Regions from separate parts of the Homo sapiens genome. Here region 2 is linked to region 1. The links come from fine-mapping of genetic effects on gene expression. A gene starts in region 1. The other region holds a variant in brackets. All regions are shown on one strand. Distances are between the middles of the regions.

Evidence for each region. PIP is the estimated chance that this variant, and not a neighbour inherited with it, causes the effect.
Region 2: its variant is fine-mapped to the expression of NAA25 in breast (GTEx, PIP above 0.99). The same link has a PIP of 0.9 or more in thyroid.

Annotation. Positions count from the first base shown.
Region 1 is chr12:112,102,967-112,118,459 of GRCh38, forward strand. NAA25 (N-alpha-acetyltransferase 25, NatB auxiliary subunit) reads right to left here and starts at 5,817. Exons shown (of 24, transcript NM_024953.4): 1 at 5,750-5,817. The coding sequence starts at 5,807. RefSeq lists enhancers at 1-166, 3,485-3,986 and silencers at 5,587-5,666, 5,687-5,766.
Region 2 is chr12:112,408,572-112,424,064 of GRCh38, forward strand. PTPN11 (protein tyrosine phosphatase non-receptor type 11) reads left to right here and starts at 10,376. Exons shown (of 16, transcript NM_002834.5): 1 at 10,376-10,554. The coding sequence starts at 10,541. RPL6 (ribosomal protein L6) reads right to left here and starts at 1,034. Exons shown (of 7, transcript NM_000970.6): 1 at 1,016-1,034; 2 at 1-85. The coding sequence starts at 85. RefSeq lists enhancers at 665-844, 8,933-9,581, 9,582-10,229, 10,004-10,263, 10,230-10,877 and silencers at 10,251-10,602, 10,314-10,883. The variant T/TA (reference allele first, on the strand shown) is at 6,709.

The DNA.
Region 1 (15,493 bases):
CGTGAGCCACTGCACTCAGCCCTATTTTTTATTTTTTTGAGATGAAGTCTCGCTCTGTCCCCCAGGCTGGAGTACAGTAGCACAATCTCAGCTCACTGCAGCCTCCGCCTCCCGGGTTCAAGTGATTCTTCTGCCTCAGCCTCCTGAGTAGCTGGGGTTACAGGCGCCTGCCACCACACCTGGCTAATTTTTGTATTTTTAGTAGAGATGGGGTTTTGCCATTTTGGCCAGGCTAGTCTCGAACTCCTGGCCTCAAGCAACCCACCCACCTCGGCCTCCCAAAGTGCTGGGATTACAAGCATGAGCCACCTCACCCAGCCAAACCACTGTGCCCAGCTTTGTATGCTTGTTAACACTTGGCCAAAACTGAACACAAAAATAGTCCAGAATGTCACAGGTCCAGGGCAAAAGACCAACAGGGACTGTTTTGGTTATGAGCAAGGTTTTGGTATGGCAGAGGTGGTCTCAGCCATCCAATGGTGATGGAAGTTCTAGATTCATTGAGAGAAGTTCTAGTAAGTCAGGGCTTTTTAAATGGTCATATTTTCAGAATGGAAAAAAATAGGTTGTGCCAAGTGACTTTTCTACAGAAACGCAAGATAGTCTTCACTCACCAAGGTACCCTGTCACTTCTGAGGCAAAATAGGACCAGACTCACAAAGCTACCACACTGTCCAAGAGGAGGTCAGAATAAATACCACTTTTGATTGAGGACCTGCAAGTTTTCATTTATGAACTAGAGCAGTGGTCCCCAACCTTTTTGGCACTAGGGACCGATTTCATGAAAGACAATTTTTCCACAGATGGCAGGGAGGGATGGTTTCGGGATAAAACTATTCCACCTCAGATATCAGGCATTAGTTAGAGTCTCATAAGGAGCGCCAACCTCGATTCCTCACATGCATAGTTCACAACAGGGTTTGTGTTCCTACTCCTAAGAGCTGATCTGACAGGAGGCGGGGCTCAGGCAGTAATGCTCTCCCCCACAACACCCTGCTGCTCACCTCCTACTGTGCGGCCCATTTCCTAACAGGCCACAGACCAGTATCACACACCATCCTGGGGTCAGGAACTCCTAAACTATGAACTATAGTGGAATAATTACCTGAGCCAGGCACCCAAGAGAAATGTCCTAACTCAGCAAAGAAGTGACTGTCACCCGGGAGACACACTGGAAAATATCTTACACCTGATCCAGGCTAATCCAAGACTGCAGGTCAGTACGACATATTAAAACAAGGGATCTCATGCCTGTGTATGTGTGTATATTCTAAAGACTATGCACACATTTTTTCTACTTTGAACTTTCTCTATTTCTATTATGCAATTTGCTGACCTAGCAATTCCCATATTCTATACAAATTTATTAAGTGCCATACCTGACCATCAATTCCACTTCCAATTATCTAAAAATATGAGCGTGAAATTAAAAACAAAAAAGAAAAAAAAGAAAGAAAAATAAATAAATAAAAGTATGGGGTAGAGGAGGCTGCATAACAAAACAGAGTCAAATATTTATTATCTCCCTCCATCCCTTCCCTTCCCTAATCCATAACCACTGAAAATGTTTTAAAATTAAGAATAATGGGGCCAGGTGCAGTGGCTCACGCCTGTAATCCCAGCACTTTGGGAGGCTGAGGCAAGTGGACCACATGATCAGAAGTTCAAGACCAACCTGGCCAATGTGGTGAAATCCTGTCTCTACTAAAAATACAAAAAATTAACCTGGCGTGGTGGCGGGCGCCTGTATTCCCAGCTGCTCTGGAGGCTGAGGCAGGAGAATGGCGTGAACCCGGAAGGTGGAGCTTGCAGTGAGCGGAGATCACGCCACTGCACCCCAGCCTGCAGGACAGAGTGAGACTCCATCTCAAAAAAAAAAACAAAACAAAAACAAAAACAAAAATTAGCCGGGCATGGTGGTGCATGCCTGTAACCCAGCTACTCAGGAGGCTGAGGCAGAGAACTGTTTGAACCCAGGAGGCAGAGGTTGCAGTGAGCCAAGATCGCGCCACTGCATTCCAGCCTGGGTGACAGAGCAAGACTCCTTCTTAAAAAAATAATAATAATAATGGGCAGGGCGCAGTGGCTCACGCCTGTAACCCCAGCACTTTGGGAGGCCAAGGCAGGCAGATTGCTTGAGCTCAGGAGTTCGAGACCAGCCTGAACAACATGGTGAAATGCTGTCTCTACAAAAAATACAAAAATTAGCCAGGCGTGGTGGTGCCCGCCTGCAGTCCCAGTACTCAGGAGGCTGAGGTGGATGGATGACTTGAGCCTGGGAAGTGGAGGTTACAGTGAGCCAAGACACTCCAGCCTGGGTGACAGAGCCAGATCCTGTCTCAAAAAAATAACGAAAGAAGGCACTGGGGCTTACCAAGTCACACAAGAGTACAAAATCTGCTGGGAACTACGTAGCAAAAGAGAATAATTTTAGCAAAAGGAGACCAAATAATCAAGTATGGGTTCCAGTAAGGTCATGGGTGGAGGTTTTCAAAAACGAAAAATGCAATACCCAAACTTATTAGTAATGTGAGATGCACTGGGAAGATGTTTCAAATCTATGCACACAGAAAAGCTATTCCAACCCTAGACACCACCAGTAAAATTTCAACCCACCACAATTTATCACCACATAGCCCTGTCCACATATACCCTCAATGAATTCCAGCAAGAGCTGAGGCCCCAAGCAAGGTTTCCAACACAATTGTAAAATAAATCCTGAAACCTTGGCAGTACAAATACTGTTGTACAAAGACAGTGATGCTACTGAATCTGAACTTGGTGAAGAGCTGAGCTCTCAGTGAGAATGTCTATGTTCAAATCCCAGCTCTACAACTTGGTAGCTACAACCTTGAGCAAGTTAATCTCTAGGCTTCAGTTTGATCACAATAATCTTACCTACCTAATAGGGCAGTCAGCCCACCAGTAAACACTAATTAATGCTGATAGTTGTTGAATTTTTGGCTGGTGGGCAAGTACCACCATAGATGAGTTTGTTCATTTGTCAGAATGTCTGAATTCAAGGAACCATGGTTGTTTGGGGGTAGTAATGTATTTAAACAACAAAAGTGTGGAGTTCAAAAGTCAAATGTGCTTAAGTGCTGAATTCACGGACAGTCTGTACCGTTCTTTTCCTAGTCCTGCCAGTTTATACTAATCGCCTTAGAATTACTGAAGAAAGCCTCTTCTAATCCTCTTCCCATGTACATGTTACAAAAGCTACATAATTCTGACTTCAGTTTTGAGAATATAACTTGTTAATATATCCTGATGTTTAGTGATGTGAAATGGACATGGTGTTTCCCATTAGACAGTCAAAACACTATTAATTCTAAATAACTATGGGACCAAAGAAATTCTCTTTGGTCCTCAAGAACAATTTTAAAAATCAAATTATTCTTGAAAGTATTGAGTGTTTTTAGTTTAAAAAAAAAAAAGTCTGCAGGCAGCTGCTGCACAAAGCTGTAATGAGTCACAAACTATGAACCCTGGATTCAGTTCTCACCTTCCATCACCCACCTTGTATATATATCTCTGCCCTCTGAAAATATACACTGGAGGGCAAGGGCATGAGAATATGCAGCCCCGGGGAAATAGGAAATCAGAGTCCTTTCTCTGCCACTTACCATCTGTGTGACCTCAGGCAAATCAGTGTCTTCAGCTCAAAGTGAGGTAGTTTCTAGCACAGTGGTTAAGAAGGTGAGCCTGGGCCAGGCACAGTGGCTCACACCTGTAATCCCAGCACTCTGGGAGGCTGAGGCAGGACTGCTTGAGCTCAGGAGTTTTAGACTAGACTGGGCAACATGACGAAACCCATTCTCTACAATATATACAAAAATTAGCCGGCATGGTGGCGGGCACCTGTAATCCCAGCTACTCAGGAGACTGAGGCAGGAGAATCACTTGAACCCAGGAGGCGGAGGCTGGTTGCAGTGCACTGTGATTGTGCAACTGCACTCTAGCCTGGATGACAGAATGAGACTGTCTCCAAAAAAAAAAAAAAAAAAAAAAAAAAGGTGAGCCTGGAGCCAGGCATGGTGGCTCACACCTATAATCCCAGCACTTTGGGAGGCTGAGTAGGTCAAGAGTTCAAGTCCAGCCTGGCTAACATGGTAAACTCCTGTCTCTACTAAAAACATGGAAGTTCGCTGGGCCTGGTGGCGTGCAACTGTAATCTCAGCTACTCAGGAGGCTGAGGCAGGAGAATCGCTTGAACCTGGGAGGCAGAGGGTGCAGTGAACTGAGATTGTGCCACTGTACTCCAACCTGGACGACAGAGTGAGACTCATCTCAAAAGAAAAAAAAGGTGAGCCTGAAACAGTCCACAGGGGTTCAAATTCTAGCTCCAAGAAATACTAACTGAGTGGCCTTAGACAAATTACACAACAACAATAAAGCCTCAGTTTCCTCATCTGTTTTTTTTTTTGTTGTTGTTGTTGTTAAAGGGTTCAGGGGCAGGAAAAAACAGTAGCCACCTCTTGAGAATGGGTGAAGATTATATTAGATAACCCATATAAAAGGCCAAGGCCAGTGACTGTCATAATGAGTCATCTATAAACCTTAGCTATAGGATTGTTGCTAAAATCAAATGAGATGTGAGAGTAAAAAAAAAAATCACACAAATTATGAAATAAAAGCCGGACTAACTGTGGCCAGAAACAAAGTTAACCACCGCCCCCCGCTCCCAAAACGATTCCCACCTTGGAGAGAAGCCTCCAATTTAGTAACATCCACATGAGGTCTATAAATACGATGTCTACTTTTGTAAAAACCACTGACCTTGAAGCTTCCTCACCATTAAGTGAGATAGACCAAGACCATAAAACCATCTAAGAGGAAAGGAAATGCAAAAAGGACCAATCCAATTACACATTTCGGTTATTGGAAAAGGGTTTCTCCCAAACTCAAAATCTGTGATTTTTCACTACCAGGGTAAATGGATGAGATGACATCAAGGTCTTCAAGTCTGCGGGTTGAGGTAAGAGTTGTGGAGAGGGATCTGCTTAGCACAGGGAAGGAAAGCTGCAGAGAAAACCACAGAGAAGCTGCAGAAAGGAGAAGCCCTCCAGTAGCTCTGCATGCCCCTCTGACACGAGCTATCACAATCTCTTCACCGCTATTTTAGGCCCAAGACCCCCTCCCCCCGCCTCCCACGTGTGACCAGAGTAGCTGCTTCTCCACCCAACAGCTCTGGATTGGGAGCCTGGAATCTCGGGCCTGCTCCTGACTCGATCTGGGTGACCTTGCGTCAGCCCCTTCCCCACTCCGGACCTCAGTTTCTCCTATGCACCGAAGCCCACCTAGTCAGACAACCCTCTAGGCCCAATTCCCGTAAATAAAAAAAAATCTCTGGTAGGGAATCTTCCCTCAGGCAGGGCGTCCCACCCTCGTGCCGGAGCCGGCTTCCACCTTCGGGGAGATCTCCGGTCTCCCTAGGAGCGGCGGTAACGATGCAGCCTGCGGGTAGCGCAGGTGTCTGCAGAACCACGCGTCCCACGGGGCCTGCCAAGCAGGCCAGCTCTGCCGACCAGCTGCTGCCCAGACCGCGCCACTACCACCCCAAGGCTGAGGAAGGTTGGGCCGGCGCCTACGCGAGGCCCGCGGCTGCGGCCTAGTGGCCCGCGCGGCCCGCCCCCCTGCGCCTGCCCGGCCCGCGCGCCGGCCCTCAGCACCCCTCCTGGGCTTTCGCCCCAGCCTCGGCAGCCCTCGGCGCGTCGGGCTGGCGAGCGGGCTGGTCCAAGACACTCACCGTAAATGGGCCGGAGGCGCCTGTCGTTAGGGTCCTGCACATGGCCCCGCGTCGCCATGATGACAAGCGCAGAACCACAGTGCGCACGCGCGGGGCAGGACCCCGGGAAAGGGCTATTAAAGGGCCAGCGTCGATCTCGCTTGTCTATCACGATAGTCGCGGTGCTGCGACTGAACGCGCCTGCGCGGAAAGGGAAGCATCCACCCTTGCCGATTGCCACCTCTTTAAACGCTGTTCCTTCACTTAGCAGGTGGGATCAAGCTGGCAAGAGGAGGCAGCTGTTGCTGTTAAAGTCTTCCGAGTCACTGACTGGGAAGTTAGGAGAGGAGGGGAGAAAGCTCTCAAAGTTAGGGTTCGGCTGCTCCTGTTTATCCTATTTATTCTCCGTCCTGAAGAACCAGCTAGACTTGGCTGTGATTAATCGCAGAGGAACCAGAAACTCCCGGGGGAGAGAGACCCAGGGGAAAGTTGGGGAAGCGGGGCTGATCAACAGCAAAAATCTGCCAAAAAAGTTCGAGAGAGCCGGGCGCTGTGGCTCAGCCTGTAATCCCAGCACTTTGGGAGGCCGAGGCGGGCGGATCACAAGGTCAGGAGATCGAGACCATCCTGGCTAACACGGTGAAACCCCATCTCTACTAAAAATACAAAAAAAGTTAGCGGGGCGTAGTGGCGGGCGCCTGTAGTCCCAGCTACTCATGAGGCTGAGGCAGGAGAATGGCGTGAACCCAGGAGGCGGAGCTTGCAGTAAGCCGAGATCGCGCCACTGCACCCCAGCCTGGGCGACAGAGCGAGACTCCATCTCAAAAAAAAAAAAAAAAAAAGAAAAAAGTTCGAGAGCCCTCCACCACCTGTTCCTGGACCAAACTGAGCGTCAGGCTGCTGTTTCTCCTGGTTCAGTAAGGAGATGCAGATGAACTGGAGAGGAAGCGAGTTTTTATTTCTGCAACCAGTTACAGGGAGAAGGCCTGGAAATTATCACCAGACCAACTTAAAATTACAAAGCTTTCCAGAGCTTATATACCTTCTAAGCTATATGTCTACGTGTAAATGTGCATTCATCTAAAGACATAAGTGATTAACTCGCCGGGCGCGGTGGCTCATGCCTGTAATCCCAGCACTTTGGGAGGCCAAGGCGGGCGGATCACGAGGTCAGGAGATCGAGACCACGGTGAAACCCCATCTCTACTAAAAATACAAAAAATTAGCTGGGCGCAGTGACAGGCGCCTGTAGTCCCAGCTACTAGGGAGGCTGAGGCAGGAGAATGGCGTGAACCCGGAAGGCGGAGCTTGCAGTGAGCCGAGATCCCGGCACTGCACTCCAGCCTGGGCGAGGGAGGCTCCGTCTCAAAAAAAAAAAAATAATAATAATAATAATTGATTAACTCACTTTAGTCTATAACTAAGGTTTGAGTCCTGAAGACTTTCCTTTGAAGCCTCAGTAAATTTACTTAATCTAAATGGCAATAGGTGCTGGGGTGATTATCCTTATCTTGCCTCCTACTAAATCACGGAGGTTTGGGGAGTTACTTCAGACCCCCAATAAAATTTGTTTAATCCTAAATGGGTCCTGTTAGGAATTCTTTCGTTATTTTGTCATGCTTTAAGGCCAAGGAAAGGCCTAGGCAAAACTCTTGGTGGGCTTTTGTTACATTCCATCCTTTGTATAAGGGCACTGGCTTTTTTTTTTTAGCTTTTAATATGTAACTTAACCACTCAGTTAGTACTGAAACAGTTGTTATGGAGGCCTGTGTTAGTGAGACCTGGCCTGCCACACACCCTTCTCCCAGGACTCAGCCAACAAAGAAGCATCCTAGATGAATACTTACTCGGTATCTGCCTAGAGTATTTAAATGCAAGGTCTTTACATTTATTCTCTCATTTAATTTTCATAACTGTCATCGTATTTCCCTGGGAGGTAGATCTTATTATTACCTCTCTTTTTACAGATAGATTTATTCGTACAACACTGAGTTATTGAGTGCCTATTATTTGACACACTCTTGTTTTAGGCACAGAGGATACATCAATAAATAAAATAGACAGAGACTTAATGGAGTTTTTATTTGTAGTGAGGGAGACAGACAATAAATAAGTAGATAGCCTATTACATGGTGATAAATGCTACTGAGAAAAATAAAGCAGGAAAGGGGGGCAGTGAGAGAGGGAGGTAATTTTAAATAGTGTGGTAAGGCTGGCTTGGTGGCTCACCCCTGTAATCCCACCACTTTGGCAGGCCAAAGTGGGTGGATCACATGAGGTCAGGGGTTCAAGACAAGCCTGGCCAACATGATAAAACCCCTTCTCTGCTAAAAATACAAATATTAGCTGGGTGTGGTAGTGTGAGCCTGTAACCCCGGCTACTCAGGAGGCTGAGGCAGGAGAATCGCTTGAACCCGGTAGGCAAAGGTTGCAGTGAGCCAAGATCGTGCCATTGCACTCCAGCATGGGCAACAGAGCAAGACTCTTGCATAAATAAATAAATAGGCCGGGTGCAGTGGGTCGTGCCTGTAATCTCAGCACTTTGTGAGGCCGAGGCGGGTGGATCACCTGAGGTCAGGAGTTTGAGACCAGCCTGGGCAACGTGGCGAAACCCCATCTCTACTAAAAATACAAAAAATTAGTCAGGCGTGGTGGCACGTGCCTGTAATCCCAGCTACTCCCGAGGCTGAGGCTTGAACCCGGGAGGTGGAGGTTGCAGTGAGCCAAGATCATGTTGTTGCACTCTAGCCTGGGCAACAGAGCAAGACTCCATCTCAAAAAAAAAAAAAAAAAAGGAAGGCATTTAAATACTCCAGAGGTCGGGAATGGTGACTCACGCCTGTAATCCTAGCACTTAGGAGGTCTAGGCGAGCGGATCACTTGAGGACATGAGTTCGAGACCAGCCTGGGCAACATGGCAAAACCCCATCTCTACTAAAAATAAAAAATTAGCTGAGCGGCTGGGCACAGTGGCTCACGCCTGTAATCCCAGCACTTTGGGAGGCTAAGGTGGGTGGATCACGAGGTCAGGAGATCGAGACCATCCTGGCTAACACGGTGAAACCCTGTCTTTACTAAAAATACAAAAAAATTAGCCAGACGTGGTGGCGGGCACTTGTAGTCCCAGCTACTCGGGAGGCTGAGGCAGGAGAATGGCGTGAACCCAGGAGACGGAGCTTGCAGTGAGCCGAGATTGTGCCACTGCACTCCAGCCTGCAACAGAGTGAGACTCCATCTCCAAAAAAAAAAAAAAAAAAAAAAAAATTAGCTGAGCAGGGTGGTGCGCACCTGTAATCCCAGCTACTCAGGGGGCTGAGGCACAAGAATCACTTGAGCCCAGGAGGTGGAAGTTGCAGAGCCGAGATTGCAACACTGCACTCCAGCCTGGGCAACAGAGGGAGACTCTGTCTCAAAAATATATATAAATAAATAAATACTCCCTGGATAAGGATCATTTGAGCCCAGGAGTTTGAGGCTGTAGTGAGCTATGATTGCACTACTGCACTCCGGCCTGGGTGACAGAGCGAGACCCTGACTCTCCAAAAACAAACAAACAAAGACTCCCGGGATGAAGTTATCAGGCAAAGTACAACAAAATATTTGAGACATACATACATACATTCACTGTTTATCTTAAATTCAAATTTAACTGGGTGTCCTGTATTTTTATTTGCTAAATCGGGCAACCCTGCGCTAGGGGAAACTCCATGCCCCCCAAATCATGCTAAGCAGCAACAATGAAGGGCAGATGCCTCAGGCAAGCTGACCCTAGGATCACTCAGAGATGGTGTGTGACCCTGCTGAGGTTGGGCTAGGACAGGGAAAAGGAGGGAGGAGAGCTGGGGTTCACCTTTGGTGCAAGTGAAAGAGATGATGAGTCACCTGAGATTTAAGAATTTCCCAGGAATGGAAAAATACAGCACCTTTAAGGGGAGCACATATGAGGCTCCTAACCAAGGCTCGGGTTACTCAGCCATGTTCTTACGCTACCTTTGTTGGCCTGGCCCCAGAGGAATGCTGATAGACTTGGCACCCAGCTCCCTGAACTTGGCAAGACCAGGGCATCATATGGATCTACCTAGCAGAGGCTTCTAGAGTCTTAGGTCACCATCCTTAGTGGGATATATTTCCCTCCACTCTGAAAGACTGCTTAGCATCCAACTAGGATTAATTGGTTGTTCTCTTTTCCCATTCCTACTGCTTGTCCTCAGAACCTAAGAATGAAGCAGTGACTCGCTAGGCTCTGGGCCTGTCCTTACCTGCCGCTGGGAGGCAGCTTGCACACCCTTTGGCAGGCCTGAATCTTTTCGGGTAACAAGATGACCTCTGAGGAAGCCAAAAGCCCATCCTTGCTGTACAATTCAGAACTTGGAGCTCTTAGCGATGACATTATGGAAAAGTGCTTGGTATACAGCAGGTGCTCATTAAGTAGTGTTTTCCATTTTCTCAACTTAGAGGAGGGGCATACAGTCTTCATTTGGTAACATTTTCTCTAGTGAGAAACATTCTCCCTGGCCGGGTGTGGTGGCTCATACCTGTAATCTCAGCGCTTTGGGAGGCTGAGGCAGGTGGATCACTTGACGTCTGGAGTTTGAGACCAGCCTGGCCAACATGGCAAAAACCCATCTCTACTAAAAAATACAAAAATTGGCCAGGTGTGGTGGCCCACACCTCTAATCCCAGCTACTTGGGAGGCTGAGGCAGGAGAATCGCTTGAACCCAGGAGGCAAAGGTTGCAGTGAGCCGAGATCACGCCACTGCACTCCAGCCTGGGCCACAGAGCAAGACTCTGTCCCCCTACCGCCAAAAAAAAAGAAGAAGAAGAAGAAGCAGAAGGAGAAGGAGAAGGAGGAGAAGGAAAAGGAGAAGAGAAGGAGGAGGAGGAGGAGGAGAGGAAGAGGAAGAGGAAGAGGAAGAAGAAATGTTTTCCCTAAAGGGCAGTGAGACACCTGGGTGCTTTGTGCCTGAATAGCTAAGGATACCAGGGAGGGGGACTGCATTACTTGAATATGGTGATGTGGGTGTCTCCATCCAATGATTCTTCTAGTTTTTCTTTTTTTTTTGCGGGGGGGACGGAGTCTCGCTCTTTCGCCTGGGGCCGGACTGCAGTGGCGCTATCTCGGCTCACTGCAAGCTCCGCCTCCCAGGTTCTCGAGTAGTTGAGACTACAGGCGCCCGCCACCACGCCCGGCTAATTTTTTGTATTTTTAGTAGGGACGGGGTTTCACAGTGTTAGCCAGGATGGTCTGGATCCTCCCGACCTCATGATCCGCCTGCCTCGGCCTCCCAAAGTGCTGGGATTACAGGCGTGAGCCACCGCGCCCAGCCTATGGTTTTATTTTTAACACGTAAATATTTGATCCATTTGGTATTTATTTCCATATGAATAATAAGGTAGTCTTTCGGCCAAGCGTGGTAGTTCACACTAATCCCAATACTTTGGGAGGCCAAGATGGGCAGATCACTTGAGGTCAGGAGTTCGAGACCAGCCTGGCCAACATGGTGAAACCCAGTCTGTACTGAAGATACAAAAATTAGCCGAGCGAGGTGGTACGTGCCTGTATTCCCAGCTACTCAGGAGGCTGAGGCAGGAGAATCACTTGAATCTAGGAGGAGGAAGTTGCAGTGAGCTGAGATCTCACCATTGCACTCCAGCCTGGGCGACAGAGCAAGACTCCCTCTCAAAATAAACAAATTAAATAAATAAATAAATAAATAAATAAATAAATGTCAGGTGCGGTAGCTCATGCCTGTAATCCCAGCACTTTGGGAGGCCGAGGTGGGCAGATTGCCTGAGCTCAGGAGATGACAACTAGCCTGGGCAACCTGGTGAAACCCCATCTCTACTAAAAATACAAAAAATTAGCTGGGCGTGGTGGCGTGCGCCTGTAGTCCCAGCTACTTGGGAGGCTGAGGCAGGAGAATTGCTTGAACCCAGGAGGCGGAGATTGCAGTGAGCTGAGATCTCGCCACTGCACTCCAGCCTGGGCAACAGAGCAATACTCTGTCTCAAAACGAATAAATAAATAAGGTGAGATTTCAATTTTATCTTTTTCAGTTGTATCTATCTATCTATAGTGGTCATATAAATATATATAGTAGCTGTATAAATATATAAAGGGAATATATATATACATATATATACACATGTATATATTTTTGTTTTGTTTTGTTTTGTTTTTGCCGGGTGCGGTGGCTCGCAGGCTGGGCGCAGTGGGTCACACCTGTAATCCCAACAATTTGGGAGGCCAGGGTGGGCGGATCACTTGAGGTCAGGAGTTCAAGACCAGTCTGGCTAACATGCTGAAACTCCATCTGTACTAAAACCACAAAAATTAGCCGGGCGTGGTGGCAGGCGCCTGTAATCCCAGATTACAAGAGAGGCAGGAGAATCACTTGAACCTTGGAAATGGAGGTTGCAGTGAGCTGAGATCGCGCCACTGACTCCAGCCTGCGTGACAGAGTGAGACTCCATCTCAAAAAAAAAAAAAATATATATATATATATAAAATGTATTTTATATATATATATATTTTTTTTTGGTAGAGACAGGTTCTTGAACACCTGGCTTCAAGCAATCCTCCCACCTCGGCCTCTCAAAGCCAAGGGAGCCACCATGCCTGACCTCAACCCCTATTTATTGAATAGTCCATCTTTTTCACAAAGCACCCAATGCCATCATTATCATATATTAAATTTCCATATGCATTTCTGGCTAGTCATGGAACAGTCTCTAGTCTCTATTCAAGGGCAGGTCAACACCGGAGTCTGCAGAGTTGGCTGGATTATCTGATCTGAGTCTGGGCTTGCTCTATACAGCCTCTGAACTACTCAACTCTTGGGAGAACATTGTCAGCTGCATTTGGGCTACTGGATGCTAAGAATGAGGCCCTTGATTTGGAATGAAGTCACCTTGAGGGGGTAGTGCTGCTTTGTGGCCAGTTCCCTGAGAAAGCGTATGAGATAAGGAATTAAAACCACCCAGGAAATTTTTTAAATAATTCTAAAATTTATATGAAAATAGTAATGACCTAGAATAGCCAAAATGGCAAGGCCAGTTGCAATGGCTCACATCTGTAATCCCAGTACTTTGGGAGGCCAAGGTAGGACGATTGCTTGAGTTCAAGACCAGCCTGGGCAACATAGCAAGACCCCCATCTCTACAAAACTAAAAAAATTAGCTGGAAGTGGTGGTGCACCCTTGTGGTCCCAGCTACTCTGGAGTGTGAGGCGGGAGGATTGCTTGATCCAGCCAGGAGTTTGAGGCTGCAGTGGGCTATGACCCTTTCTCAAAATAAATAAATAAATAAAGCCACATTCGTTAAGACTGTGGAGAAATAGCATAAGGATAAACAGGTAGATGTGTAGAACAGAGAGCCCAGAAATAGATTCTATACATATGGTCACTTGATTTATGACAAAGGCCCAAGTGAAATTCAGTGGAGAAAAGATTTTTTCTCCCAGTAAATGGAACCATAGGTTATGTTTTTATTTATTTATTTGGTCTGTTTGTGAGGCAAGGTCTCACTTTGTCACCCAGGAGGGAGTGCAGTCACACAATCACAGCTCACTGCAGCCTTGAACTCCTGGGCTCAAGCGATCCTCCTCCCTCAGTCTCCCGAGTAGCTGGGACTACAAACACACATCAGAATGCCCAGCTAATTTTTTCACTTTTTTGTAGAGGCAGGGGTCTTGCTATGTTACTCAGGCTAGTCTTAAACTCCTGGGCTCAAGCAATCCTCCCACCTTTGCCTTCCAAAGTGCTGGGATTATATATATGTGTGAGCCACTGTGCCCGGCCTCACACCTTAGGCAGTGTTGGGGGAGAGAACTGAGTGAGGGCTTTTCCTGGGAAATCAGACTAAAACAAAGTGATCCTAACTCTCCTCCTCTAGACACTAGGAGGGTCTCTGCAGGTGTCTGTGGGTTGAAGCTGCCCGGGGAAGGCAGCGGTGGCCCCTGGGAACTCTGCCTGGCAAACAGGCAGCCTGGAAAATGTCCCAGCATGCTCTGAGGCCTCTGGTCCAATCCCAGTCCTCCTCATGAATATGTATGAGTCCCCAGTTATCAGCTGCGGCTCTGAGCCTCTTCCTCCCTGCTCAACCCCCCACCGCTCTCTTCCCCACACAAACATCCCTCACCCTTCCTCTTCTCCTTGATAACTGTCAACATCTCTTGCTCCTTGCTTCAGAACTGATGAAATAATGTGAACATTTCAGGGCCTGAGGACATATCTAGAGTGTTTCAGGGCCTGGCACCTTGATTAGGAAACTGGCTTTTAGCAGTAGTTTCACAAATAATTCTCCAGTTAGAGATGAATATACTTGTGACTATGTGCCAATAATAATAATAATAATAAAATCAGATGAATGTCTAAAGCCCGCCTTGGAAGACCTAACTCCATCTAGAAAATAAAAGTGCGTGATGTCCTTCTGTGGCAGACACTGTCCTTTGCTCTTGCTTCCCTAATAGCTCCCTCCCTGGTTACTCCCCTGTTATTCCCTGGTTACTTCCCCTCCCAGTGTGTCAATTATCTAAGCCTCTTTGAGTAATCAGATGGCCAGCTAATGAGTGAGTGCCTGAGTCACCCTGGGGCCACTGAAAAATAAAAAAAGATGGAATTCCAAAACTTGTAGGTAGAAATTAAAAGACTGCATTGTTTTGGTTTTTAAGCCAGAGCCAGTACAGTGGCTTACACCTGTAATCCCAGCACTTTAAGAGGCTGAGGTGTGAGGATCATTTGAGACCAGGAGGTCAAGGCTGCCGTGAGCTGTGATTGTATCACTGTATTCCAGCCTGGGTGAGACCTTGCCTCAAAAAAATTTTTTTTTAATTAAAAAAAAAAAAAGCCAGGGGCCAGGTGCGGTGGCTCATGCCTGTAATCCCAGCACTTTGGGAGGCCGAGGTGGGCAGACCACGAGGTCAAGAGATCAAGACCATCCTGGCCAACATGGTGAAACCCCGTCTCTACTAAAAATAAAAAAATTAGCTGGGCGTGGTGGCGTGCGCCTGTAGTCCTAGCTATTCGGGAGGCTGAGGCAGGAGAATCACTTGAACCTGGGAGGAGGAGGTTGCCGTGAGCCAAGATCACACCACTGCATTCCAGCCTGGTGACAGAGCAAGACTCCGTCTCAAAAAAAAAAGAAGCCAGGGCTAAATAAATATTAATAAATCATGAGAGCTAGAGATATTTATGTACACACGGATGACTGGAACTTTTAATAACCAAAAGCCAAATAAAGGCAAACTCTATAGCCCATTCCGGTAATTCTACTCCTGGGTGTATACCTAACAGAAATTAACATCATATCTAACCAAGAACAAGAATATTCATACCTGGCTGAAACTAGAAACAAGCCAAATGTTCATTAACTGTAGAATGGGCTAATAAATTGTGAAGTTGTGAAGATATTCACAATTTATTAAGAATACTACATGACAATGAAAAGGAATGAACTAAGGTTATATGCAATGACATGGGTGAATATAACATTCAAGATATTGCCTGAAAAAAGTCTGACACAAAATAGTATATATTTCATCATTCTATCTGTTCCTACGGAATAGAACAGGCAAAACTATTCTTTTTTTTTTTTTTTTGAGATGGAGTCTCGCTCTGTTGCCCAAACGGGGGTGCAGTGGTACAATCTCGGCTCACTGCAACCTCTGCCTTGCGGGTTCAAGCGATTCTTTGGCCTCAAAGTCACAAGTAGCTGAGACTACAGGCATGAGCCACCATGCCCGGCCAATTTTTGTATTTTCAGT
Region 2 (15,493 bases), 310 kb after region 1:
TTTTCACCTTGCCACCAGCATCAACCTTCTTGGCTTCGGGTTTCTTCTCTTTAGTATCTGGCTTCTCAACTTTTTCACCCGCCATCTAAAAATATTTTTTTGTAGATAAAAAAAGGCATTTCACCAGTCATCTCTCTAACAAGACAATAATGAACCTGTACATGAATGGGCTGGGCTCCCCAGACTACAATCCCTCCCCCGGTAAGATACAGGCCTTCCTCTCAAACTCTACCCATTCTACTCCAACCTTCACTATGACTCATTTGGGGTTTGTCTCCCCAATACACTATAAACTTTTTTTTTGAGAATTTGAAACTACCTCACACCTATTAGGTTTTTTGCCAAATACTGAGCGGTCAGAAGTCCGTACAACCATTATTTTTTATTACTGTTTTGCGAATTAGAAAACTTAGATGCAGAATGTGTCCACAGGTTAGAAGCACCAAGACCAGAACTTGAAATCCCTTACTTTCAGTACCTTTCGTCTTAACCCTTAAGACCAGTGTCTCTTTTCAAGAAACTCGATTTAGGAATTGCGGACACAAACGGAATCAGCCCAAATTGAGCCAGAGAAAAAGATCGCAAAGACCAAGAGGCGACTTCCGGTCGGGGACGCTGGGAGACGCGAAACCTTTTGGCTTCAGTGCGGAACCCCAACGTGGCTGCGACAGGCTCAGTGTCATCCTCTGGAACCCAGGACCAGGAACACAGTGCACGCGCCGTCTCCCCGCTTCCTCTAACACCCACCAGTCTGCTACGGGTCCCCGAAAGGGCCTCGTTCCCCCAGCCCAAGAGAGTGGCGAAGAACCGGAGGGAGCCACTACGGCATTCTACCTCACCCTCTTTGTGCCCTGCCGCAAACCCAAACAACAAAAATGAAGCGTCTGGAAGGCCTCTCAGTTAGCCTTGGACATGTCCGACCCCTGTAGGTGTCGACTGGATGCCCTCCAGGTTCGGATGGCGAAGGATTGGGAGTCCTGAACTCAAGTCTTGCAGACAGGCCCGCGATTCTTACCTTGCAAGATGGGAAAGAGAATTAAGGTCCCGGCTTCCGGTCTATAAGCAATCATGGGAAGTGCGAGTCTCACTTCCTTCCGGATCTGGGGCATCATGGGGAATGTAGTATTTCCCCGTTAAGAAAAAAGTAGTAAATCCTAGGCCGGGTGCGGTGGCTCACGCCTGTAATCCCAGCCCTTTGGGAGGCCGAGGCAGGAGGATCCTCTGAGGTTGGCAGTTCGAGACCAGCCTGGCCAACATGGTGAAATCCCGTCTCTACTAAAAATACAAAAGGTAGCCGGGCGTGGGTGGTGCGTGTCTGTAATGACAGCCAGTCGAGGCGCGGAGGCAGGAGAATCACTTGAATCTGGAGGTGGAGATTGCAGTGAGCCAAGATCGCGACACTGCGCTCTAGGCAACAGAGCAAGATTCTCAAAAAAGAAAAAAAAAAAAAAAAGGGCCGGACACGGTGGCTCACGCCTGTAATCCCAGCACTCCAAAGATCGTGCCACTGCGTGCCACCGCACTCCAGCCTGGGAAATAGAGCCAGACTCAGTCTCAAAACAATAACAACAACAAAAAAAAGAAAAAAAGAAAAAAAATTAGCCGAGTGTGGTTGTTAGTGCCTGTAGTCCCAGCTATTCGGGAGGCTAAGGCGGGAGGATCACTTGAGTCTTGGAGGTCTGGGCTGCAGTGCAGTGAACTCTAATCTTGTCACTTGAGATTAGGTCAGTGGTCCCCTCTTCCCTTACCTTGGATTTAGCGGCTGACTACTTCCTCTTGTACATGGCCTTTCTCATTCCCGTCCTCCGGCCTGGCCTACAGAATGAGACTCTGTCTTAAAAAAAGTAAAAAAAAATTAAAGTGAGGATAACAATAGTAACTTACTTCATAAGGATGTTGGGAACATTAAATAATATATACAACAGTACTGAGAAGCATATTTGATTATTTGATGGATGGTAAATGCTACATAAGTGTTAGCTCTTTTTTTTTTTTTTTTTTTTTTTTTTTTTTTTTTTTTGAGATGGAGTCTCGCTCTGTCACCCAGGCTGGAGTGTGGTGGCACGATCTTGGCTCACGGCAACCTCTGCCTCCTGGGTTCAAGTGATTCTCCTGCCTCAGCCTCCCAAGTAGCAGGGATTACAGGCGCACACCACCATGCCCAGCTAATTTTTTGTATTTTTAGTAGAGACAGAGTTTCACCATGATGGCCAAGCTGGTTTTGAACTCCTGACCTCAAGTAATCCACCCGCCTCAGCCTCCCAAAGTGCTAGGATTACAGGCGTGAGCCACCGCACCTGGCGAACTGTTAGCTCTTGTTATTGTCACCATCACCACTACAATCATCTGATCATCAACATCCTAGTTGTTGTCAAGTATTCTGCTAAAGTTTATGCATGGGAGATAATAGGCAATATTGCATACAATGTGCCTTGCTTTATTTCATTTAATTCTCCCAACAACCTGTGAATGATACTATTATGAGGAAACTGAGTCTCAAGGACATTAAGTAACTTGCTCACAGCATAGATCTGATTCCAAAGATTGCACTCTTAACCATTAGGCTGCAAGATTAAAGAGATGATTAATGAAGATGCATGAGAGTTTTGCTCATGTTAGAATTAAAAATAAGAATATTTATTATCTTTTACAAAATACACAACACAGTATATGTGATAGTTCTTTACTGCTTCAAAGCCCTTAAGCCAACATGTACACATTTGTAATACCTTCTAGCTTGCGTTTTCCATTTTCCTCCATTCGTTTCTTTCTGGTTGCTAGAGCTTTTCACCTTGATTTTTTCAGATCGAAACCACCTGCTTCATGGCTGTGTCTCTGGGAATCATTTAGCCTTTTTCTGGTTCTGATTCACTGAGGATACAAATACAATGATCAGATGAACACTGCCCTTTTTTTTGAGAATGGGAATGTCAGCAGCTTTATTTGTTTAGCTTCCTCAGCAAAGCACCTCTTAGAAACTTCAACTGCAGAAAATGTACCACAATGAATGAATGAGATGCACAGTTGCTTACGTGGGCCCCTCAAAATTGCTGGCAATCTCAGATAATTTCACCTAGTGAACGCCCCAAAATATGTGTTGAATGACCTGTCATTAAAATAAAAACGTAGATGAACCCCCTCTTGTGTTTTGTTGCGGTATTGCAAAATTTACAATTCATTAGTTGGGCAAAATACCATGTTAGTTATAAAGTAAATGTTTTTATTAAGTTTAGTTTTGCCATATATAAAATTCTCTGAAATTTGTGCAGCACTTTAATCACAAAGCAGACATTTTTGCAGACACTTAATCTTTTTTTTTTTTTTCTGAGATGGAGTCTTGCTCTGTCGCCCAGGCTGGAGTGCAGTGCCGTGATCTTGGCTCACTGCAACCTCTGCCTCCTGGGTTCAAGCCATTCTCCTGCCTCAGCCTCTTGAGTAGCTGGGATTACAGGTGCCCGCTACCACACCTGGCTAATTTTTTTTTTTGAAACAGAGTCTTGCTCTTTTGCCCAGGCTGGAGCGCGGTGGCATGATCTCGGCTCACTGCAACCTTCGCCTCCCGGGTTCACGCCATTCTCCTGCCTCAGCCTCCCGAGTAGCTGGGACTACAGGCGCCCGCCACCATGCCTGACTAATTTTTTGTATTTTTAGTAGAGGTGGGGTTTCACTGTGTTAGCCAGGATGGTCTCGATCTCCTGACCTCGTGATCTGCCCGCCTCGACCTCCCAAAGTGCTGGGATTACAGGCCTGAGCCACCTTGCCCGGCCAATTTTTTGTGTTTTTATTGGAGACAGGATTTCACCATGTTGGCCAGGCTGGTTTTGAACTCCTGACCTCAGGTGATCTGCTCACCTCGGCCTCCCAAAGTGCTGGGATTACAGGCGTGAGCCACCTCGCCCAGCCTAATTTTTTTTTTTTTTTGGAGACAGAGTCTCGCTCTGTCGCCCAGGCTGGAATGCAAGGTGAGATCATGGCTCACTGCAGCCTTGACCTCCTGGGTTCAAGCAATCCTCCCACCTCAGCCCCCTGAGTAGCTGGGAGTACAGTGCACACCACCATACCTGGCTAATTTTTTTACATTTTTTGTAGAGACAGGGTCTCACAATGTTGCCTCAGCTGTATTTTTTGTTTGTTTGTTAGGCAGTAAATCTTTTAAAGCCTGGCCAACATGGTGAAACCCCATCTCTGCTAAAAATACAAAAATTAGCCAGGCATGGTGGTGCATGCCTGTAATTCCAGCTACTTGGGAGGCTGAGGCACGAGAATCACTTGAACCCGGGAGGCAGAGGTTGCAGTGAGCCGAGATTGTGCCACTGCACTCCAGCCTGGGCCACACAGTGAGACTCTGTCTCAAATAAATAAATAAATAAATAAATAAATAAATAAATAGAAAAATATCTTTATATGTGTTATGTATGTGTGTGAGCCTGTGTATGGGATGAGTTTGTGTGTTTGTATATGTATAAAGTGTGGAAAGACATACACCAAACCATTAACACTGCTGGGGATTGGGATATGGAGTACGTATGCATCAAGGAACAGAGAAAATTACTGTTTGTTATTTAGTTTGTTGCAAGGAACTTGTATTGCTTTTGTAATTGAGAAAGAAATTCAAATAAAGTAATGGCTATTATCTGAATTAATCTCTAAATGAATATATCTTTTTAAAATTAAGATGGAGTTGGCCGGGTGCGGTGGCTCACGCCTGTAATCCCAGCACTTTGGGAAGCCAAGGCAGGTGGATCACGAAGTCAGGAGATCGAGACCATCCTGGCTAACACGGCGAAACCCCGTCTCTACTAAAAAATACAAAAAAATTAGCCGGGCATGGTGGCGGGTGCCTGTAGTCCCAGCTACTCGGGAGGCTGAGGCAGGAGAATGGTGTGAACCCGGAAGGCAGAGTTTGCAGTGAGCCGAGATTGTGCCACTGCACTCCAGCCTGGGCGACAGAGTGAAGACTCCATCTTAAAAAGTAAATAAATAATAATAATAAAATAATTCAGATTGAGGTTTTTTTGTTTTGTTTTGTTTTGTTTTGTTTTTGCTATGTTGCCCAGGCTGCCAGTCTGGTCTCAAACTCCTGTCTCAAGAGATCCTCCTGTTAGCTACCATGCCCGGCCATATAAATGAATATGCCAGGCACTACTCCAGGCATATAAAGATGGGAAGACCGGCCGGACATGGTAGCTCATGCCTGTAATCCTAGCACTTTGGGAGGCGGAGGCAGGATGATTGTTTGAGCCCAGGGGTTTTAGACCAATCTGGGTAACATGGCAAAACCCTGTCTGTATTAAAAAAAAAAAAAAAGGAAGACAATGACTTTGTCTTAAAAGGAGATCATAATCTAAAGAAAGACACAGAACAACAATGACAGAACCCACAATGATGTTGAAATGTGTTAGGTGCTGATAGAAGCATGAAGAGGCAGCCCCAGGAGCATAGGAAAGGAGTCTCTCTTTTATTCTCAAAAAGTGAAAGAATGTTTTCTGGAGGAGCTGCTTAAGTTGGAGTTTAACCTTGCATGACTGTTTTCCAGGTGGAGAAGGGTTTGAAGAGTATTCCAGGCAGTAGGAACTAAATTTTGGAAGACAGGGATGCAAGAAACAGCTAGAAGCCTTTAGAAACTGCTAGATTATGTGAGGGTGTTGGCACAGGCCATATCTAGAACGGACTGATGTGCTAAGGGAAGGAGTTCAACTTAATGCTAGAGGGTTTGAACCTCCTTCATACAACAGGGGAGGGGAGTGACGTGATTAGATTTGTATTTTTAAAAGATTATTCATTCTAGCTGCAGAGTGTGCAGAATATAGGAAACACTAGGAAGGTAGTAGTTCCTGCACTCAAAGAGCTAATAGTTTACTTTGGAAAAGAGACAAATGATAGCCAGCTTTTATCAAGTGCTGACTTTGCCAGACACTGTTCTGAGTATTTCACAAACCTATCCTATGGTAGGATTTTGATTCCTACTTTGCAGAGAAGGAAACAGACACAGAGGAGTCAAATGACTTGCTTATAGACACCCAGGCAGCTAGATCAAGAACTTAATTGGCAGCCAGGCGCCGTGGCTCACGCCTGTAATTCCAGCACTTTGGGAGGCCGAGTCGGGTGGATCACGAGGTCAGGAGATCAAGACCATCCTGGCTAATGCGGTGAAACCCTGTCTCTACTAAAAAAATACAAAAAATTAGCCGGGCGTGGTGGCAGGTACCTGTAGTCCCAGCTACTTGGGAGGCTGAGGCAAGAGAATGGCGTGAACCCAGGAGGCGGTGCTTGCAGTGAGTCGAGATCACGCCACTGCACTCCAGCCTGGGAGACAGAGTGAGACTGTCTAAAAAAAAAAACAAAACAAAAAAAACCCACAAAACTTAATTGGATGCTTCCTATATGATACGGCTCTTAGATTTATAGTGTAGCATGTTAGGTTCTAAGGATAGGTGTCTTGGTGACCATCTGACCTGCACTAGAGAATCGGGTGAGGCTTGTATTCCAGAGGAAGTGGCTCCTAGCCTGAGATCAGAGGCATAGAGTTGATGTGGAGGACAGTCAGGAAGAACCCTCTGGGGAAAGAAAGCAGATTGTTAAAAGGCTCTACGCTGGGAAAGAATATGGCATATTGAGGGGAGCTGAAAGTCATTCAGCATGGCTGGGTCATAGAGAATGAAGCGAGTAGTGGGGAGACGGGGTGGTGAAGTGATTGGGGACCAGAGT[T/TA]AAAAAAACTCTGGTGCATTGGCTCACGCCTGTAAATCCAAGGCCTTGGGAGGTCAAAGTGGGAGGACTGCTTGAGGCCAGGAGTTCAAGGCCAGCCTGGGCAACATAGCAAGACCTTGGGTCTAAAAAAATTTTTTTAAACTTTTTTTTGGGCCGGGCATGGTGGCTCACGCCTGTAATCCCAGCACTTTGGGAGGCTGAGGTGGGTGGATCACTTGAGGTCAGGAGTTGGAGACCAGCCTGGCCAACATGGCGAAACCCTGTCTCTACTAAAGATACAAAAAAAATTAGCTGGGCATGGTTGTGCGTGCCTGTAATCCCAGCTACTTGGGAGGCTCAGGCAGGAGAATTGCTTGAATCTGGGAGGTGGAGTTTGCAGTGAGCCGGGATTGCGCCACTGCACTCCAGCCTGGGTAACAGAATGAGACTCCAACTCAAACAAAACAAAAAACTTTTTTTTTTTTGTAGGGACAGGGGTCTTACTCTGTTGCCCAGGCTGTTCTTGAACTCTTTGGGCTCAAGAAATCCTCCCACCTAGGAGTCCCAAAACACTGGGATTACAGAGGTGAGCCACCACATCCAGGGGGATAAACCTTTTTTTTTTTTTTTTGGACTTCATTCTAAAATCAAGGAGAAGCCATTGGTGAATTCAATGTAGGGAGTGACTAGTTTTGCAGTTTTTTTTTTTTTTTTTTTTGAGATGGAGTCTCGCTCCGACGCCCAGGTGGGAGTGCAGTGGCGCAATCTTGGCTCACTGCAAGCACCACTTCCTGGGTTCAAGCAATTCTCTTGCCTCAGCCTCCTGAGTAGCTGGGACTACAGGTGCCTGCCACTGCACCCAGCTAAATTTTGTATTTTTTTTTTTTTTTTTTTTTTTTGAGACAGAGTCTCGCTCTGTTGCCCAGGCTGGAGTGCAGTGGTGTGATCTTGGCTCACTGCAAGCTCCACCTCCTGGGTTCACGCCATTCTCCTGCCTCAGCCTCCCGAGCAGCTGGGACTACAGGTGCCCACCACCACGCCCAGCTAATCTTTTGTATTTTTAGTAGAGATGGGGTTTCACTGTGTTAGCCAGGATGGTCTCGATCTCCTGACCTCGTGATCCGCCCGCCTCAGCCTCCCAAAGTGCTGGGATTACAGGCGTGAGCCACCGCGCCCAGCCCTAAATTTTGTATTTTTAGTAGAGATTGTGTTTGACCATGTTGGCCAGGCTGGTCTCAAACTCCTGACCTCAGGTGATCCACCCACCTTGGCCTCCCAAAGTGCTGGGATTACAGGTGTAAGCCACCGCACTTGGCCACAGTTAATTGTATTTTTAGTAGAGACGAGGGTTCACCATGTTGGCCAGACTGGCCTCAAACTCCTGACCTCAGGTGATCCACCTGCCTTGGCCTCCCAAAGTGCTGGGATTACAGGCATGAGCTACCGCGCCCCGAGTGACCCGCCTAGTTTTGTAGTTTAGATTACTCTGGCTACTATGTGGAGATTGGATTAGGAAGTTTAGGCCTGCAGGCCTGAGATCAGTTAAAATGTAGCTTGTCATCTAGCTGGCCAGGATTTAGGGAGAGGGACAACTGCTTGTTAAATGGCTCTTATGTGAATTAAATTGGCATATATTAAAGGTGATCTTTGTAAGGAGCACATGATGCTGAAGCAGTTAGCACACAGTATGAGACTCACTTGTATATGAATGAAATGGGCAAGCATTAAAAAAATGAGGATTTTGGAGCTATACAGATATGGGTTAAACTTATGGCTCTGCCATTCACTAGATCTGTAGCCTTTATTTATTTATTTTTGAGAAAGAGTCTCACCCTGTCACCCAGGCTGGAGCGCAGTGGTGCAGTCTGGGCTCACTGCAACCTCTGCCTGTCCGGTTCAAGCAATTCTCCCACCTCAGCCTCCGGAGTAGCTGGGACTACAGGTGTGCGCCACCAAGCCCGACTAATCTTTGTATTTTTAGTTGAGACGGGGTCTCACCATGTTGGCCAGGCTGGTCTTGAACTCCTGACCTCAAGTGATCTGCTCTCCTTGGCCTCCCAAAGTGCTGGGATTACAGGCGTGAGCCACCACGCTCAGCTAGATCTGTAGCCTTCAATGAGTCATATGCGCATCAATCAAGTAAAAGCTCTACTCTTCTCAATCTGGTCTGAGCTACCATTATTCCCAGACCAGAATACTATAGTATTCCGTATTTTGACTGGCTTCTCTGTTTCTGGCCTTGCTCTCTTGCTCGAGCTTCACAGAGTGTCCAAAGTAATACTTCCGTACCACCCGGCCCGGCTTTTTTTTTTTTTTTTTTTTTTTTTTTTAAGAGACATGGTCGCACCATGTTGCCCAGGCTGGTCTTGAACTCCTAGGCTCAAGCAATCCTCCTGCCTCAGCCTCCCAAAGTTCTGGGATGAAGGCGTGAGCCACCATACCTGGCCTGAGTGCAGTGGCGCGATCTCGGCTTTCAGCAGCCTCGACCTTCCAGGCTCAAGCAATCCTCTCACCTCAGCCTCCCGAGTAGCTGGGACTACAGGCGCGCGCCACCACGCCCGGCTAATTTTTGTATTTTTTGTAGAGATGGGATTTCACTATTTTGCCCGGGCTGGTTCCCAACTCCTGGACTCAAGCGATTCGCCCGCCTCAGCCTCCCAAAGGGAAGTGCTGGGATTTCAGGCGTGTGCCACCGCTCCCACCCCAAAGTAGTATTTATTGTAATTATTATTATTATTTTGAGACGGAGTCTCGCTCTATTGCCAGGCTGGAGTGCAGTGGCGCGATCTCGGCTCAATGCAACCTCTGCCTCCCGGGTTCAAGCGATTCTCCTGCTTCAGACTCCCAAGCAGCTGGGACTACAGGCGCCCCCCACCACGCCAGGCTAATTCTTGAATTTTTAGTGGAGACGGGGTTTCACCATGTTGGCCAGGATGGTCTCGATCTCTTGACCTCGTGATCCGCCCACCTCGGCCTCCCAAAGTGCTGGGATTACAGGCGTGAGCCACCGCGCCCAGCCTATTATTATTTTTTTAGGCAGTGTCTTGCCCTGTCGCTCAGGGTGTAGTGCAGTGGCGTGATCACGACTCACTGCAGCCCCGACTTCTCGGGCTTAAGTTATCTTCCCGCCGCAGCCTCCACGCCCGGTTAGTTTTTTGCATTTTTTGTAGAGATGAGGTCTTGCTTTTTTGCCCAGGCTGGCCTCGAACTCCTTGGCTTAAGCGAACCTCTTGCCGCAGCCTCCCAAAGTGTTGGGATTACGGGCGTGAACCACCGCGCCCAGCCTACTATCTTTATCTTACAGAAAGAAAAGAATGGAGGAAACCGAGGCTCGGAGACAGTAGGTAATTTCCCCAAGGTTCCACAGCTAATGAGTGGAGCGGCGATTTGTGGAACGAAATGAATGAAATCGATGTGGCAGCGGGCCCGGACGGGTCGGTGGCGTAGACGCGGAGCGCGCAGCTCACACCTGGCGGCCGCGGTTTCCAGGAGGAAGCAAGGATGCTTTGGACACTGTGCGTGGCGCCTCCGCGGAGCCCCCGCGCTGCCATTCCCGGCCGTCGCTCGGTCCTCCGCTGACGGGAAGCAGGAAGTGGCGGCGGGCGTCGCGAGCGGTGACATCACGGGGGCGACGGCGGCGAAGGGCGGGGGCGGAGGAGGAGCGAGCCGGGCCGGGGGGCAGCTGCACAGTCTCCGGGATCCCCAGGCCTGGAGGGGGGTCTGTGCGCGGCCGGCTGGCTCTGCCCCGCGTCCGGTCCCGAGCGGGCCTCCCTCGGGCCAGCCCGATGTGACCGAGCCCAGCGGAGCCTGAGCAAGGAGCGGGTCCGTCGCGGAGCCGGAGGGCGGGAGGAACATGACATCGCGGAGGTGAGGAGCCCCGAGGGGCCCGGCGCGGGCCTCGGCCCGGCCACCGCCGCGTTCGGTTAGCCCCGTCCGGAAGGGGGCGCCCCGGCCGGGCTTCGGGCTCCCGCCCCGGGTCGGGGTTGGGGGCCGGTTCCCTCCTCGTCCCCTCGCCCTCCAGGGGCCGGGGGCCGGCCCCACCGCGCCCCCACCCCTCGGGTCCCCATTCATTTCCTGCCTCCCCGAGTTCCGGCTGCGGCAGCCCCGGGGATGCCCGTCAGGCCCGGGGCAGGTAGAGCCGCCGAGGGAACCACGGGTGCCAGCGGCCAGGCTCAGCGCCGCATTCCTGACCCATTGCCTCATGAGAATTGCCTCATGGTGATTCCGAAATAACCCTGCTCACTTGGGGAGGCTCCTTGGGACACGAGAGGGGAGTTGCGCGGGGCCGGGCCCCCAGTGGTCTAGTCGTTCTGGCTCACTGTGCCACTTTCGTGCATTTGGGGACTTCACGCAGGACCCCTGACCCTTTTATATGCCTCTTTGTGTCTTCTTTTCCTCCTACCCCTCACGTGCCAGAAATGGAAAAACTGACTGTATCTGCAGCCACTAGAAGTATTTCCTTCCTCTGCGATCTTCGCTTTGGGAGATGGAAAGGAAGGGAGCCGCATCTCGTTATTTAATCCTTCACTGCAACCTTAACAGTCAGGTCACTTTACTGGTACCCGTTTTATGGATGAGGAAACCGAGGCCCAGAAGCAACATGCTAGTAAATGACAAGATTTGAAACTTAGGAGGATTAGTGAGTTAATGAGATCCTTTGAAAGGTCAGGGTAATACTACTACTAATAGCTAACATTTGCTTAGTTCTGACCACAGCCCTATCAGATGGCTACTATTATCCCCATTGTAAAGATGAGTAAACCGAGTTTCAGAGGTTAAGTAAATTGCCTAACCTCACAGCTAGTAGGTGGTGGAGACAGAATCCCTACTTTTAATCACTATGTTGCTTCTATTATTTTGTAACTATTGCTAACCATTTGTAAGCCTTAATTTTGTTGTCAAACAGTAGTGTGACCTGTTGTTTTCAGATAGTGATCCTGCTATTTTGTATAGTCACTCTATATACCACTCACACTTAAGACCCATTGTCTATTCTTTTCCATGATTGTTCAATTATGGTCACTGTCTCAGACATTTAAAAAACGATTCAAGCTATTGAGGCTATTTGAATGAGATTTTCTTTTCTTTTTTTCTTTTTTTTTTTGGAGACGGAGGCTCACTCTGTTGCCCAGGCTGGAGTGCAGTGGCGCAATCTCGGCTCACCACAATCTCCGCCTCCTAGGTTCAAGCGATTCTCCTGCCTCAGCCTCCCAAGTAACTAGGACTACAGGCGCACCACTATGCCCGGCTAATTTTTGTATTTTTAGTAGAGACAGGGTTTCACTATGTTGGCCAGGCTGGTCTCAAACTCCTGACCTCGTGATCCGCCCGCCTTGGCCTCCCAAAGTGCTGGAATTACAGGCGTGAGCCACCGTACCCAGCCTGAATGAGATTTTTCAAAATATTAGGAATGTCTCCTCCAAACACACCTGGCATGTTATTCATACATGGATCTGGAATTTAAAAAGGGGAGAAAAAGAAAACTGAGAACTCGTAGGAAGTGAGTGACTTGGACAGGTCGGTTGGCAAGTGCTTACAGATCTGGGTAATATATAACTGCATTTCAACAGAACAGTGTATAGCCTCAAATGTTCTAATTCTTTAGGGAGCTTTTAAATAAACAGTTGTCTATTCTTTAATCTGTCAAATAGTCATTGAGCCTTTTGTTCCTGGTGTCTGCTCTTCCAGACAAGTAAGGATCTGCTGCTTTAGGAGACATCAGACGGGGCTGGGGGTTGGGAAAAGGTCTGGGTAGTAATAGACCCTACATTGTCCAGTTTGTTCATTTAGAAGCATAGAAGTGTGGGCATAGTCAAAGTAGCAAGTGGTAAAGATGACAGTTTGAAATGGAGTAATTCCTTCTCCCCTCCAGCCCTGGTATTATGCACCACCCAAAAAGCCGGGTTATGAACATAATACACATAATTTTGAATGATTCATTATTTTTTGGATTATAAGCCTGTTTTATTTGTTAACCAGCCTTAATGAGGTATAAATGACATGCAATTAATTGCATATATTTAAATGTACAATTTGATCAGTTTTGACATACATATACACTTGGGAAACCACCACCATAGTCAAGATAATGAACACATCTATCACCCCTGGTAATTTTGCCTTATGTTCTTTATAATCCTTCCTTTGTTCTTAGGCAGCCACTATTCTGCTTTCTGTCACTATGTATTAGTTTGCATTTCCTAGAATTTTATTTTTAAAAATTTTAAAATTGTTTGAATAGAGATGGGGTCTCACTGTGTTGCCCAGGGCAGTCTCAAACTCCTGGGTTCAAGTGATCCTCTCACCTTGGCCTCCTGAAGTGTTGGGATTATAGGCATGAGACACCCTGCCCAGCCCTAGAATTTTATTATTATTGTTATTATTGTGTTTTTTTGAGATAGGGTCTCACTTTGTTGCCCAGGCTGGAGTGCAGTGGTGCAATCACTGCAGCCTTGTTTTCCTAGGCTCAATCCATCCCCCCTCCTCAGCTTTCCGGTTACTGGGGCTACAGGTGTGCACCACCACACCCGGCTAATTTTTGTATTTTTTTATAGAGACAGGGTTTTGCCATGTTGGCCAGGCTGGTCTCAAACTCCCGGGCTCAAGCGATCTTCCTGCCTCGGCCTCCCAAAGTGCTGGGATTACAGGCATGAGCTATTGCGTCCCGCCTTCAAATTACTTTAACCTAGTATTAATTCATTCAACAGGAAGTTAATGAGCCAGGCAGGATAAAGCAGTAAGATAGGAAAATATTGCTATTTTCATGGCTGAGAGAGAGCAGACAAACACATGACTAAATAGGGCAATTTCAGGTAGTAATAAATTCTAGGAGGGAAAAAATCCCACAGAAATGTGAGGATGGGAGAATGCAGTTAGTTTTGATAGGTGGTTTAGAGAAGGTGATCGTGTGAGCTGACACCTGAATGACAATTAGTAGTCTGAATTTTGTTTTGCTTAATTATCAAAATAACTCCTCTTGGGTTCGGCTTTTATATGCATCCAGTAATTAAAATGTAAGTATATTCAATGTACTGATATCTCTCAGCATCATAGGTAGGAAAACTAAGGCATTCAGCAATTAAGTGACTCCTCCCTTGATCATGTAGCAGTGATAGTACTGGATTTAGATTTTGAGGTTGCTTCTCTGCCCTTTTCTGCCTTTGTGAAACCAACAAAGCTGCCTGTATTTTCCAACTCTTCCTTCAGCATGTGGTACCTCCTTTACATCTGTTTTTGTTGCTCTGAAATCCATACGCGACGATGAGCTGAGAGGGGCAGAAAATTGAGCTTGTTCTGAGACTGGAGGCTTTTGGTTTATCTCTTGCAGGTCAAGTACATTTTGTCCTGGGCTCTCCCTGGTGGCCACGTTTGTTTATCTCCTGCGGGAGTAAATAAACTTGCCTTGCTGAAAAATAACAGTTCTGTGTCTTTGCAGTGGAAACTGGGATGTCTTTATTAACGTTAGGTCCTGATGTAAGGCCAAGTTTTTGGTTAGAGTTGCTCAAGTGCAGAGGCCACTGCTAAGATGACTTACCCCTCGTGTCCATGGTCAATGTGGAGACTGTTATGAGTGGCACATGATGCTGGAAAAGCAGAGCCAACTCATGTTTGTAATTGTCCTAGCAGGCCGTGGTGTACTTTGTTAGGCAGCCACAGAACAATAGAGAAACTCAGCTTATTCCCCTTCCCTCTGGGAAACACAGACAGTACTTGCCATCCAACGCCAATGTTTTTAAGGAAGAAAGAGGCAAAAAGTGATGTTGGCAAGGTCTCTGGGAGTTGTGGACCCCAACCAAGGATTGGAGACCCTGAAATGGATTCAGATGCCCTAAAATGCAGCCCAGTTCATTACTATGAATTTTGGAGGACTTTGTGCCTTGAGCAAATGTGTATATGTGACGCTCTTTGACAACACTGAAATAGGAAAAATACTATCCATGTTCGCGAGGAGCACTGAATTTAGAGAGGGAGACAGACTTTTATGCCAGCATCAAATGAATTTGATAAAGCTAGTACCAAAATGAAATTTGAAATTTTTTTTTTTTGAAATAGAGTCTTACTCAGTCACCCAGGCTGGAGTGCAGTGATACAATATTGGCTCACTGCAACCTCCACCTCTTGGGTTCAAACAATTCTTGTGCCTCAGTCTCCTGAGTAGCTGGGATTACAGGTGCGTGCCACCATGTCTGGCTAATTTTTATATTTTTAGTAGGGATGGGGTTTCACCATGTTGGCCAGGCCGGTCTTGAACTCCTGGCCTCAAGTGATCTGCCCACCTTGGCCTTCCAAAGTGCTGGGATTATAGGCATGAGCTACCACACAAGCCTGAAATTTGAAATGTATTGGTATAGAATATACTGTTTAGAATGTATGTGTATATATGTATATTTGTATACTCATATAAACACAAATACACATTGTATGTGTTTCTGTAATATGTATATCTGTCTACACATACATGTATATACACACATACAATGTCTTTTTTTTTTTTTTTTTTTTTTGAGACAGGGTCTTACCCTGTTGCCCAGGCTGGAGACTGCAGTGGCATAATCTTGGCTCACTGCAGCCTCGACCTCCTGGGCTCAAGTGATCCTCCCATCTCAGCCTCCTGAGTAGCTGGGACTGACTACAGGCACGTGGCATCAAACTTGTCCAATTTTTCTATTTTTTTGTAGAGTTAGGGTCTTGCTCTGTTGCCCAGGCTGGTCTCAAATTCCTGGGCTCAAGCTGTCTGCCTGCCTCGGCCTTCCAAAGTACTAGGATTACAGATGTGAACCACTGTACCTGGCCTTTACAATGTCTA